Linked DNA regions of Homo sapiens. The protein of the gene in region 3 interacts with the protein of the main gene of each other region in a biochemical or structural test. Each region holds a gene or a part of one and is shown on either strand. Other genes may lie near its edges.

The links.
Region 1: the proteins of SOS1 (region 3) and ABI1 form a complex in vitro, tested with the Homo sapiens proteins (one study listed by BioGRID and IntAct).
Region 2: the proteins of SOS1 (region 3) and HCK interact in a biophysical measurement, tested with the Homo sapiens proteins (one study listed by IntAct).

The regions. Positions count from the first base shown.
Region 1 is NC_000010.11:26,766,889-26,770,543, forward strand, and holds part of ABI1 (abl interactor 1), read right to left. Parts: intron 3,458-3,655; coding exon 3,357-3,457; intron 2,105-3,356; coding exon 1,964-2,104; intron 1-1,963. UniProt on the Homo sapiens protein: May act in negative regulation of cell growth and transformation by interacting with nonreceptor tyrosine kinases ABL1 and/or ABL2. May play a role in regulation of EGF-induced Erk pathway activation. Involved in cytoskeletal reorganization and EGFR signaling.
Region 2 is NC_000020.11:32,086,648-32,090,302, reverse strand, and holds part of HCK (tyrosine-protein kinase HCK), read right to left. Parts: coding exon 3,496-3,655; intron 1,736-3,495; coding exon 1,659-1,735; intron 1-1,658. UniProt on the Homo sapiens protein: Non-receptor tyrosine-protein kinase found in hematopoietic cells that transmits signals from cell surface receptors and plays an important role in the regulation of innate immune responses, including neutrophil, monocyte, macrophage and mast cell functions, phagocytosis, cell survival and proliferation, cell adhesion and migration.
Region 3 is NC_000002.12:38,985,042-38,988,696, forward strand, and holds part of SOS1 (son of sevenless homolog 1), read right to left. Parts: intron 2,551-3,655; coding exon 2,432-2,550; intron 1,275-2,431; coding exon 783-1,274; 3' UTR 323-782; coding exon of another isoform or gene 269-322; 3' UTR 1-268.

The DNA.
Region 1 (3,655 bases), on a different chromosome or scaffold from region 3:
AGTTTTACTGGAACACAGCCACATTCATTTACGTATTGTCAATGGCTGCTTTTGTGCTACAATGACAGATCTGAGTAATTGCATCAGAAACCATATATATGGCCCACGAATCCTAAAATATTGACAATCTGGCCCTTTATAGAAAAAGTTTGCTGATCCCTGTTCTAACAGAATGAGCTCTTGAAAAAAGAACTATGCCCTATTGACAAATGCCTAGTATCTAATGAAACAACACTTAATAACTGCTTGTTGAATATGATTAAACTATGCTTCCACTATAGAGAAAAACTATACTTTGATCCAAGAGTTCAATAACAACAAAGAGAACAATTTTGTTCCTCAAAGAACTTGACCTGATACAGTAACTGCAGATATCAACTTAACAATTTGTTTACTAACAGCACCAATAGTAATAAATACCGCTTACCTAGCATCTCGCATCTTGATATACCCTATTTAGTGGAATTCCCATAAATCATTTTGATAAGTTATCTCTCATTTACCAACCTAAGAGTGAAGGCAAAAGAGAGGTTCCCTGCCCACGTTATTAAGTGAGAGAGAAAACTGAAGAATAAAACAAATTTGGTTATATAATAAATTTATCTGGTTTTATAAAGCACTCAAAAATTGAAGTGGCTATATTTTGGGGGAAGAAGGTCGAGGCGATAACCAGGAAGGAGCATGAGGGGCTTCTGGGTTGCTGGTAATGTTCCATTTTCTGATCTGGGTGATGGTTATATGAGTGTGTGTCCATTCATCAAGCTGTATACTTACTGAAGTGGATACTTTTCTGAATGCTTGTTATGCTCTGTAACTAAATTTTTAAAAACCCACCGGGTAATTGACTTTTAGGACATTTAAAAATAATAAATACAAGGCCAGGAGCGGTGGATCATGCCTGTAATCCCAACACTTTGGGAGGCCGAGGTGGGTGGATCACCTGAGGTCAGGAGTTAGAGACCAGCCTGGGCAACATGGTGAAACCTCATCTCTACTAAAATACAAAAATTAGCCAGGCGTGGTGGCATGCACCTGTAATCCCAGCTACTCTGGAAGCTGAGGCAGGAGAATTGCTTAAGCCTGGGTGGTAGAAGTTGCAGTGAGCCGAGATCGCGTCACTGCACTCCAGCCTGGGTGACAGAGCTAGACTCCATCTCCAAAAAGATAATAATAATATTATTATTATAACAACATATTCTAGTATACTGATTCTCTTAAAAAAATCTCCCTCAGATTTAAGCTTAATCTTCTTTCCTTCAATCTCTGAAAGTTTAAATCACGTTGTATAATTCCTATGATATTTAATCTTTTCTCCAAAAGTATTTGAGTGGTTTGCCTTGAATTTTTTTAAAAGAGCATTTTAAAACATTCTTAGGGCTGGGCACAGTGGCTCACACCTGTAATCCCAGCACTTTGGGAGGCCGAGGCAGGAGGATCACCTGAGGTTGGGAGTTGGAAACCAGCCTGACCAACATGCAGAAACCCCGTCTCAACTCAAAATTAGCCAGGCGTGGTGGCTCAGGCCTGTAATCCCAGCTACTTGGGAGGCTGAGGCAGGAAAATCGCTTGAACCTGGGAGGCAGAGGTTGCAGTGAGCCGAGATCGCACCACTACACTCCAGCCTGGGCAACGAGAGCAAAACTCCGTCACAAAAAAAAAAAGAAAAAAATTCTTTAGTCTTAACCCGTAGAGTCTGATAGAGTCTGTACCTCTATCAAAAGGAGGAAATACAAACAATCCATTAATAGTACAAATAGATGTTTTAAAAAGTTAAAAAAACAAAACAAAACAGAAGTTATAACACAAACTTACAGGAACATATATAATATTATTCCCCCAACTTTTACATTTTATATTAGCATTAGAGTGGCACCTCACCTTTACTCAGCACCTCCATAGGAGTTTGTCGCCAGTCAGTTACACCCACTTTAGAGATGTTGAGATACTCAACCTAAAGGCTTACCTGTGTGTCCTTGGTCTCTGATTTAAAGATGCTGTCCTGCCTGGACTATGCTGACTTCCAAGCCTAGCAGGACTGGTCATATAGTCATTAGGAACTGTTGGGGGTTTAACAGGTTCCAGGGTTTTATAAGGAGTATTCCGTCTAAAGGAGCATAGTGGAGAAAGGAATAATGAATAAAAAAGATAAAATTGTATTTTTCCCAAAAATATGTGAGTCTCCCTTTGTGACCATGTATACCAGGATTTAAAAATATATATGACAAAGTTTGTAATTTTAAAAAATATTCTTCACTGGGATATATGAATTTTGTTACTTTAACATGAAAACTAAAATTTGTTACCTTTTCCTAGGAAAAACATAGGAAAGGGTAATTTAAAGTCCTAACCTTATTTCTAAAAATTATGGTTATAATTTTTTAAATGCTCAATAATAGCAAACTTTAAAATGTACATTTTTCTCAGTACAGTCACCCATAAGCCACTGTTCTTTAAACAGGAAGCTAAATTTATTTACATAGGAAGCTGCAATTTATTCCCATCTCAATATGGCAATAAATGGAGATATACATTCTAATCATTACTTTCTCAATAAATGATTTCGACTATTCTGTTTAATAACTTCATTTTTTTTTTCAGGGGCAGAGGGTTTAATGAATAAAAATGAAAACTAAGACCTTCTTAAAAGAAGACTGATTGTTGAACAACCCCTCTGCCAAAAAATAAGAAATCCAATATAATATTTCCAGTATTAAGAAAAACAACCTTAAAGAAATATAATGCTTTGACAAGTATTCGCTATATTTAGTACACTGAGAACTAGGAAGGAAGAAGCCACTGTTATCTTTTCTACTTGCCCAACTGGCCTTCCCATGGAGCTACTCTAGTGTGAAGAGGCCTAAGATTACCAGCAGAAGCATAGTTACAAGTAAAGTGCATACTTTCCTAAAGTAAAGAGTCCCTAAGTCTCAGACACCAATAGGCGAAACAGAAGAGCTGTGGACTAAGCCATACTACACAAAAGTAGACCACTAGTCAAAGTTCTACAATATAGATACTGTAAACACATGCAAAGGCACCATTTGGAATACTCTAATCATTCCATTTAAAACAAACAAGTCAGATTTATATTTTTTAAAAATTAGATGACAAAAAAATAAATCATGCCATTTATACATACATAAAAACTTTCCTAGTACAGATTATAGAGAATATTACAAAGCTGGCAGATTCATTTGGGATTCTGTTCAGGAAAATAGGAATTAAAATGAATTTGTAAAAGGTAGCGTCACATAGAGAGGGTAGTGTGGCATGGATCCCATACACTTACTTAAGTCACAGAAACATCTTTTCCTTTAGCATATGAATTCTTTTGCAAAATGTAGTTGAATTCTTACCCCAGTGTTCCCCGGCCTGACATGGGAGGACTTGGCGGTTTCTGAGTAGGAGGATTTGTTCTCGACAGTGTGCCAGTTCTTGCAGGCTGGTTATTTCCATGCTAAAATGTAGAAAGAAATGCTTTTATTTTTATATCAAATTGTTCTCCTGGTGTTTTAACACCATGTATTATTTTTTTTAAATATCAGAATGTGAATTAAGGATTCCCAGACAGTTTGAATAAAGACTTTGGTACTACAGTTTAAAAAGTCAAGGAACCACTTGCACTTGGTCTTCCTATTATTTTATGCCATTTATA
Region 2 (3,655 bases), on a different chromosome or scaffold from region 3:
GGACAGATGAAGGCCCAGAACCTCTTTTCCTCCCTTGGTTTGTTTTCCCCTCTGTGAAACGGGCAGAGTGGCTCTTGCCCTGGTCGGTGACTGCTGCCCAGCAGGGCTTCTGCTAGTTTGAAGATGATAATTTAGCAACAGACCAGTCTATTGTCTCCCAGAGGACCTGGCCCATAGGAGTGAAAACACATTTCCATATGCCTCTGGCATTCCAGGCTCTGAAAGTAGAGTCTTTTGTTACACTTTGTGGTGTCCTCTGGGCCCCTGAATTTGCATACTCAAATGAGCCCTGCCCTTGGCATCTCCAGCAGGCCCAGCTGAGGCCCAGGCAGGGTCTCACTCAACTCCCACTATCCCTGGGCTCCTGCTGAGTAGGCTGAACTCCTTCACCTACTTTTGCACAGGCTGTTTCTTTTGTCTAAAAGACCTTTACCTTTTCTCTTCATCTACTGAACTTCTATTCATCCTTCAGGCTCGGCCTAGAGGCCACTTCCTCCAGGAAGCATTCTCTGATTGCTCCTGGACCAGGCTAAATGCTCTAGCTATGCACTCTAATACCACCCCGTCCTTACACTCTGTTTTCCCAGACATCAGAGAGAGCATGAGAGAGGACAGAAGTGAAAAAACTGCTTAGGCTGGGGGTGAGAGGAGCTGCAAGGGGCGTGGGGAACATGAGAAAGAAAATTAGGTTTTCAGCAGTGTTTTTGCGATTTGTGAACATTATTTACTTTGTTAGATACTGTGCTCTTTTGACTCAGCCAGGACCACTTGGGTCATGGTCTCTAAGAGATTTGGTTATTTAATACTCATCTTCCCACCTGGATTGTGAACTCTATTAGGACAGGAACATTTTCATTTTGTTCACTGCTATATCCCCCATAATTAGCACAGTAACTTGTGCAAGCCACTTAACCACACTGGGGCTCAGTTTCCACATCTGTACTTTACTTCTGCTCTATGCTTCAATTTCCTATTCTGTAAAATGGGATGATAATTACCTACTCTGTGGCCAGACTGTTACATTGAGGGGGTCCCTGGGATTTGTGTCCTTGGTCAGTCCCCTCCCACACTGATTCTGGGCATGGCTATGTGACTTGGCCAATGGGCCATTAGCAAGCCTGATGCAGGCAGAGGCTTAATGAGAGCCTGCTCATGAAGGCTTGGCCCCTGGTCCAGCTCTGTCTTGGAACCCAGCTGCTGCGCCGTGAAGAAGCTCAGGCTGGGTGATTGGGTGGTGAGGGGCTATGTGGAGAGACCCTGGAGGCTGAGCCATGTCTTGGACATTCTAGCCTGGGCAAGTGCCAACATCTGCACCTCACTTTACCATGACGAGCAGAAGAACCACCCAGCTGAACCCAGGCAACCCACAGGATCATGAGAAATAACAATTGCTGTTGTTTCAAGCTACTAGGACTTGGATGGTTTGTTATACCAAAATAGATAACAAAAATCCCAGCCTATAAAGCTTATAGGATGATTAAATGAATGAGTACATGTATAATAAAATATATGCAAAAAACATAGTTTTATACTGAGCTCTCAATACATTTTACCCATTATTATTACTGCTATCATCATAGTATGTGGTCAGTAAATATTTGGCAAGTAAAAAAATCGAATTCCTGTTTCCCTTCCCCGTTTCCTCGTTAGGCTCTCACCTGGGCTGAGAAGTCAATGAGTTTTGGCAATGGCTGCTTGCTGCCCTCATCACTTTTCAGAAAGTCCAGCAAGCTTCCTATATGGGGGAGAGGGGAGGAACATTTACTACTTTTACTATTTAATGGCAAAAACCACAATTACTTTTGCACCAATCTAGTACTTTAGTGTGTGGTGAAGATTTTTCATAGTAGTAGATTTAAATACGAATATTTGTTTGCAATTCCTAGTGTTTGAGAAAGAGAATTGAGTTTTAGTGAAGTGACTTTTTGATTGCTAGATGGATTCTGTGACTGAGACAGCCCCTGAGCCTGGATGGCTGGGATCATGCCTTCACAGGACTGGCATAATTGCATAGTTAAAATGAAAAAGGCTTGAGGTTTCAAATCGCACTAAATGGGATTGCATGAGATGATTCTGTTTATCAAAAAATGGGCAGAGTGGCTAGGCACGAGGCTCACTCCTGTAATTCCAACACTTTAGGAGACCGAGGTGAGAGGATCACCTGAGGCCAAGAGTTTGAGACCAGCCTGGGCAACATCGCAAGACCCCATCTATAGAAGAAATTTACAAATATATATGTTAGGCCAGGCTCAGTGGTTCATGCCTATAATCCCAAAGCTTTGGGAGGATCAGTTGAACCCAGGAGTTTGAGACCAGCTGGGGCAAGATGGCGAGACCTTGTCTCTAGAAAAAAATTTTAGAAGCTGGGCGCAGTTGCTCACGCCTGTAATTCCAGCATGGTGGGAGGCTGAGGCGGGCGGATCACAAGGTCAGGAGATTGAGACCATCCTGGCTAACACGGTGAAACACCGTCTCTACTAAAAATACAAAAAAATTGGCCAGGCATGGTGGCAGGCACCTGTAGTCCCAGCTACTTGGGAGGCTGAGGCAGGAGAATGGCGTGAACCTGGTAGGTGGAGCTTGCATTGAGCCGAGATTGTGCCACTGCACTCCAGCCTGGGAAACAGAGTGAGACTCTGTCTCAAAAAAAAAAAAAATTTTTTTAGAAATTAGCTGGGTGTGGTAGTGCATGCCTGTAGTGCCAGCTACTGGGGAGACTAAGTCGGGAGGATCCTGGAGCCTGAGAGTTTGAGGCTACAGTGAACTATGATCACGCCACTGCACTCCAGCCTGGGTAGGCAGAGGGCAACCCTGTCTCTAAAAATAAATATGTAAATAAATAAATAAAATTAGCTGAGTGTGGTGGCATGGGCCTGTGGTCCCAGCCACTCGGGGGGCTGGGGTGGGAGGATCACTTGAGCCCAGGAGTTATGATTGCACCTCTGCACTCCAGCCTGAGTAACAGAGCAAGTTCCTGTCCCTAAAAAACAAACAAACAAAAAATGGCAGGGGTTGAAAATGGTTGTGAAACAGTGGCCTAAAAAAATTCCCCAAGAAATCCTGAGTTGTGGCAGGGCGGGGGTGGGGGCAGAACTGCTGCTTTGCCAGCTCCCTCTCCCAGGGCTTTGGCAAGTACAGGGAAGGTGGCTGATGCGGGAGAGTGGCACCCCCACCACCCATGCCACACCCTGGCCTCTAAGGCTCACTGTGAACCATAAGCCCCTTCTCCCATTGCCCAGGAGTATTCTGGCCCCATTCCCTTCTCCTGGTAGCCCCTTGTTCTCCCTTCCCCTTGGTGACCCCTTAACATGATTTCACCCCACTAACCAGGAGGGCTGGATTGTTCCACATTAGATTCTCAATGAGTACTTGTTGGAAGAGCTCCTGGCCAGATTGGGGCCATCTCAAGGGCAAGAACCATGTCCAAGCCACCCTTGGGCCCGCAATTGACCAGTATAGGCCACAGCCTGCACCCCCAGCCCCAGCACGCAGCACCTTTGGCCATGAACTCCGTGATGATGTAGATGGGCTCCTTGGTGACCACCGCATGAAGTTTGACCAGCTTGTCATGCTGCAGAGTTTTCATCACGTTGGCCTCTGCCAGGAAGGCCTCCACCGACATGCTCCCTGGCTTCATCGTCTTCACTGCCACCTT
Region 3 (3,655 bases):
GAATAGTTGACAGTTATTTTTTTTTAAAAAGTTCTTCTGTCATGTTAATGACACAAAACTTCTCTTTTTTGAAGGCAACACCACCACATTTTGTTTGGGTGTGTGGGGACAGGTGGGGGGAATGCTCTTAAAATTGGTACAATTATTCCTAAAACAACAACAACAACAAAAAAGTACCTCTTTGGTGAAGCCTCGGTACCCATTCAGTTCACCGTAATAATCTGTAAACAGGCCTGTAGTACAGTGCCGGGCCTTGATTTCAACAAGGTCAGGTACCACAGCCTTTCCTCACAGTCCTTTGAGTGATTTTTAAGAAAATATTCTAAAGTAGAAGAGTAAAGCAAAGGAAAACAAAGGAAGATATTAAGATCCCTGTTTAAGTTTTTTTTTTTAAAAGTGCATAATTTGAATTACAAAAACTGTCATGTGGGCCTGCTGGACACTAGACTGTGTTTTCCATCCCTTTAATGATCACTTCACAAAAGATCACTTCACAAAAAGAGGACTCCTGCCTATTGGCCAGAAAAAGTCCCTTTATGATTTTCAGGTGCAATCAGTTGTCCAATTCCTCTAGGTCGGTCTTTCCATATTCTAAACTGGAATACCATTTCCATTGTATAATTACATCTAGGTTAAAATTCATTGTCTTATACTGCATCTTGAAGAAGAGTCGTTAGTGTTTGGAGTTCTCATTTTAACTCCTCAGTGCTGGCACATTCAGTGCATCCATTGCCAGCAATGGATTTGGGGCTAGGAAAATATACATCCCAGTACAGAGGAACTCAGGAAGAATGGGCATTCTCCAACAGTGGTGGTCCATCTCTGTGCATGGATGGGTGTGTGTGCTCCCTTTTGTAAGTTTTTGGAGGGAGTTTAGGGATATGTTGAGAAGTGCTTTGTCGTGGAGGAACAGGCGGCCCAGCAATGGAATGAAGGTCCACTTCTTGTGTCAATGGTGGTGATGGCAGATGCCTTCTTGTGCCGTGAGGAGAAGGTGTTTGAGGAGGAGGTGGTGTAAAGGGGGAAGGGCTGTTTGGGAAGAAGGCATTGCCATGGTCACTTTTTTTGCCCAAAGGGGGAGGTTGGAGATGTAGTGGTGAGCTTGAGAAAACATCAGGTGTCCTCACAGGTTCTCGTGGTGGTAATAAGGGAGGGCTTTCAGGAGGGTCTGAGATAGAGGTCCGGTCTGATATTGAATATCGTGGTGAATAGGCTTTTGATGTGGGTTGCCTAGGAGGAATGGCTGGGGGACTGTCCAAATGCTTAGACATAATCTAACAAATGAAAAGAATAAAATACACATTTATTAATAAATTTATGAAGTATCATGACTATAAGAATTAAGTTGGGGTTTTCAAACATGCTATTGGCAGGATGCTAAGTGTGGAACAGGGAGTTTTGCCATATGTTTTCTTTTTAATTAAAAAAAAATTTTTTTTTTTGAGACAATGCCTTGCTCTATTGCCCAGACTGGAGTGCAGTGGTGCAATCATGGCTCACTGTAGCCTCAACTTCCTGGGCTCAAGTGATCCCCCGACCTCAGCATCCCAAGCAGCAAGGACCACTGGCATGTACCACCATGCCTGGCTAATTTTTTTCATTTTTTGTAGAGTCAAGGTCTTGCTCTGTTGCCAAGGCTGGCATATGTTTTAAATGGGAGGTTCTGTCAATTCATAGAAAAAAAAAGTTTGCCGTAGTTTTTACTTAAATTTTTTTCCTCAAAATTTTGTTTGCTACTGCTTGCTTAGCTTATCACTCAATCTAAGATCATTTCTAATTTAGCATAAAGTACCTATTTTATAATTTTAAGTTAACTATGTTAACATTCATGAAGTTCTACAAAGAGTGTCTTGTCTTGACTTATCCTGGTGCTCTGCACTCTGGACAGCTTAAGAACTAATGAATTAAGTTTAACAGCTGGCCAAAAAGAAAAAAACAAAATTAAATAAGTAGAAATAATAGCTATTTTGAGCCTTTGGGGTCTCTTCCAAACCCAGAATTTTCATGAAAACTCCATTTAAAAGTATGTCAGATTTACTATTAAGGGCTCAGATAAGTAAATTTTAGCATATGTCAAAATACAGTTTGACTTATAATGTGCCTTCATACAAAGCTTCAGGACTTTCTCTGTATGCTTTTAAAGAACTGCTTGAAACCAAATTCCTCTTACTTTACAGATTAAAACTTTTGTTTTTTTCTGAAAATAACCATAGCCTTAGGTTTACAAGGGTCTTGAATGCATACCAAAAAACTACCTTCAGAAGAAAGAAACATTACTGCATGCTAAATCTATATGTAATCCTTGTTTAAACTATTAAGCCTGTATACTCTGAAATGTTAACTTATCCTAGTGAGAACTAAACTAGACAGCCGTTTATTATAATGAACTGTAATGATTCCAATTTCTACACAACAAGATTTCTTACTTTACCTTAGATGGTGAAGATTCTGCTGGGGCAGATTCTGGTCGTCTTCGTGGAGGAACAGGAGGAGGGACAGGCACTTCATCAGTGCCTTTGGTTAAACTTATAGATGATACAGAAGCAGATCCTGTGGGATGTTAAATTTTTAAGAAAAAGTCCACAGGAATTTTATTTCATTTATTTACCTTGAAAAGTCTTAGCTGGAAATTGCTTATAATTAAAAGTAATGTGTAGAAATACCAAAAGCTGTTCAATAAACCAATACCGAATAGTATTTCATTAAAGCAAACTGCCATAAAAGCATGCAGACATTTTTTAGCAGAATATTTAGAAAAAAGCTGCCTAAGGTATTCTGTTATTTTGCCTGAACAAAATAACATTCCCATGGTTACTCTATTATTGAAATTTTTAATTGAGTCTGATTCTCAGATGTCTGGGAGACAGTGAGCTACTGAAAATCTTTGGAATGGTAATTTTTAGATTCTATAATGGGTTCATTTTTTTCTTTGACTTTATTAGAATTTATAGAACTTCCCCACCTTACTGGATAGTCCCTGGGAGTAGAGTGTGTGCTCTTAACCACTCTCTCCAATGTCTCTCCCTAGCATTTCTCTCAAAGGATGCAAGGGAAAGAATCATAGTGTCTAGGTGAGGGGCCTCTCCTCATTTTGTTTAGTTATAGGCTCCCCTTTGCCTGTAAGCAAAAAGAGGCTCATTATACTCTAAATCCAAAAATTTTAACGGTGATGGCACTATTCAAGACAACGGAGGCAGCCCTGACCATGAAAACAGAAATTACACTAAAATCTAGTGAATCTGATTTAAGAATAAGTTGGTGGACTGGCACAAAAAAAGTAAGTAAAGCTACTAATTAGAACCTCTCTTACAGACATTTATGGTAACAAGAACATAAGGTAGGCATATAAATACACTTTGGAAAACAACACTTAAGTTAGTTGTTTATACCTACTATAAAAAAAGATGTGAAAAAAATACTTAAACCATCATTCAAAATTATAGTTGGCAGTTTTTTTTCCCTTTAAGCATTAAGCTTTTTATTTTGTCACATGTTATAAAATATAGAACTTAAAAAGAGTACTTTGTGTACTGATATTATTTAAATGATCAACATTTTGATCACCTACCTTTTTTCTTAAGAATATAGTTAATTCAGCTTGTAACTAGTATTTTCCATTGTACATATTTTGAAATTGTATGAAAGGACAGCAAAA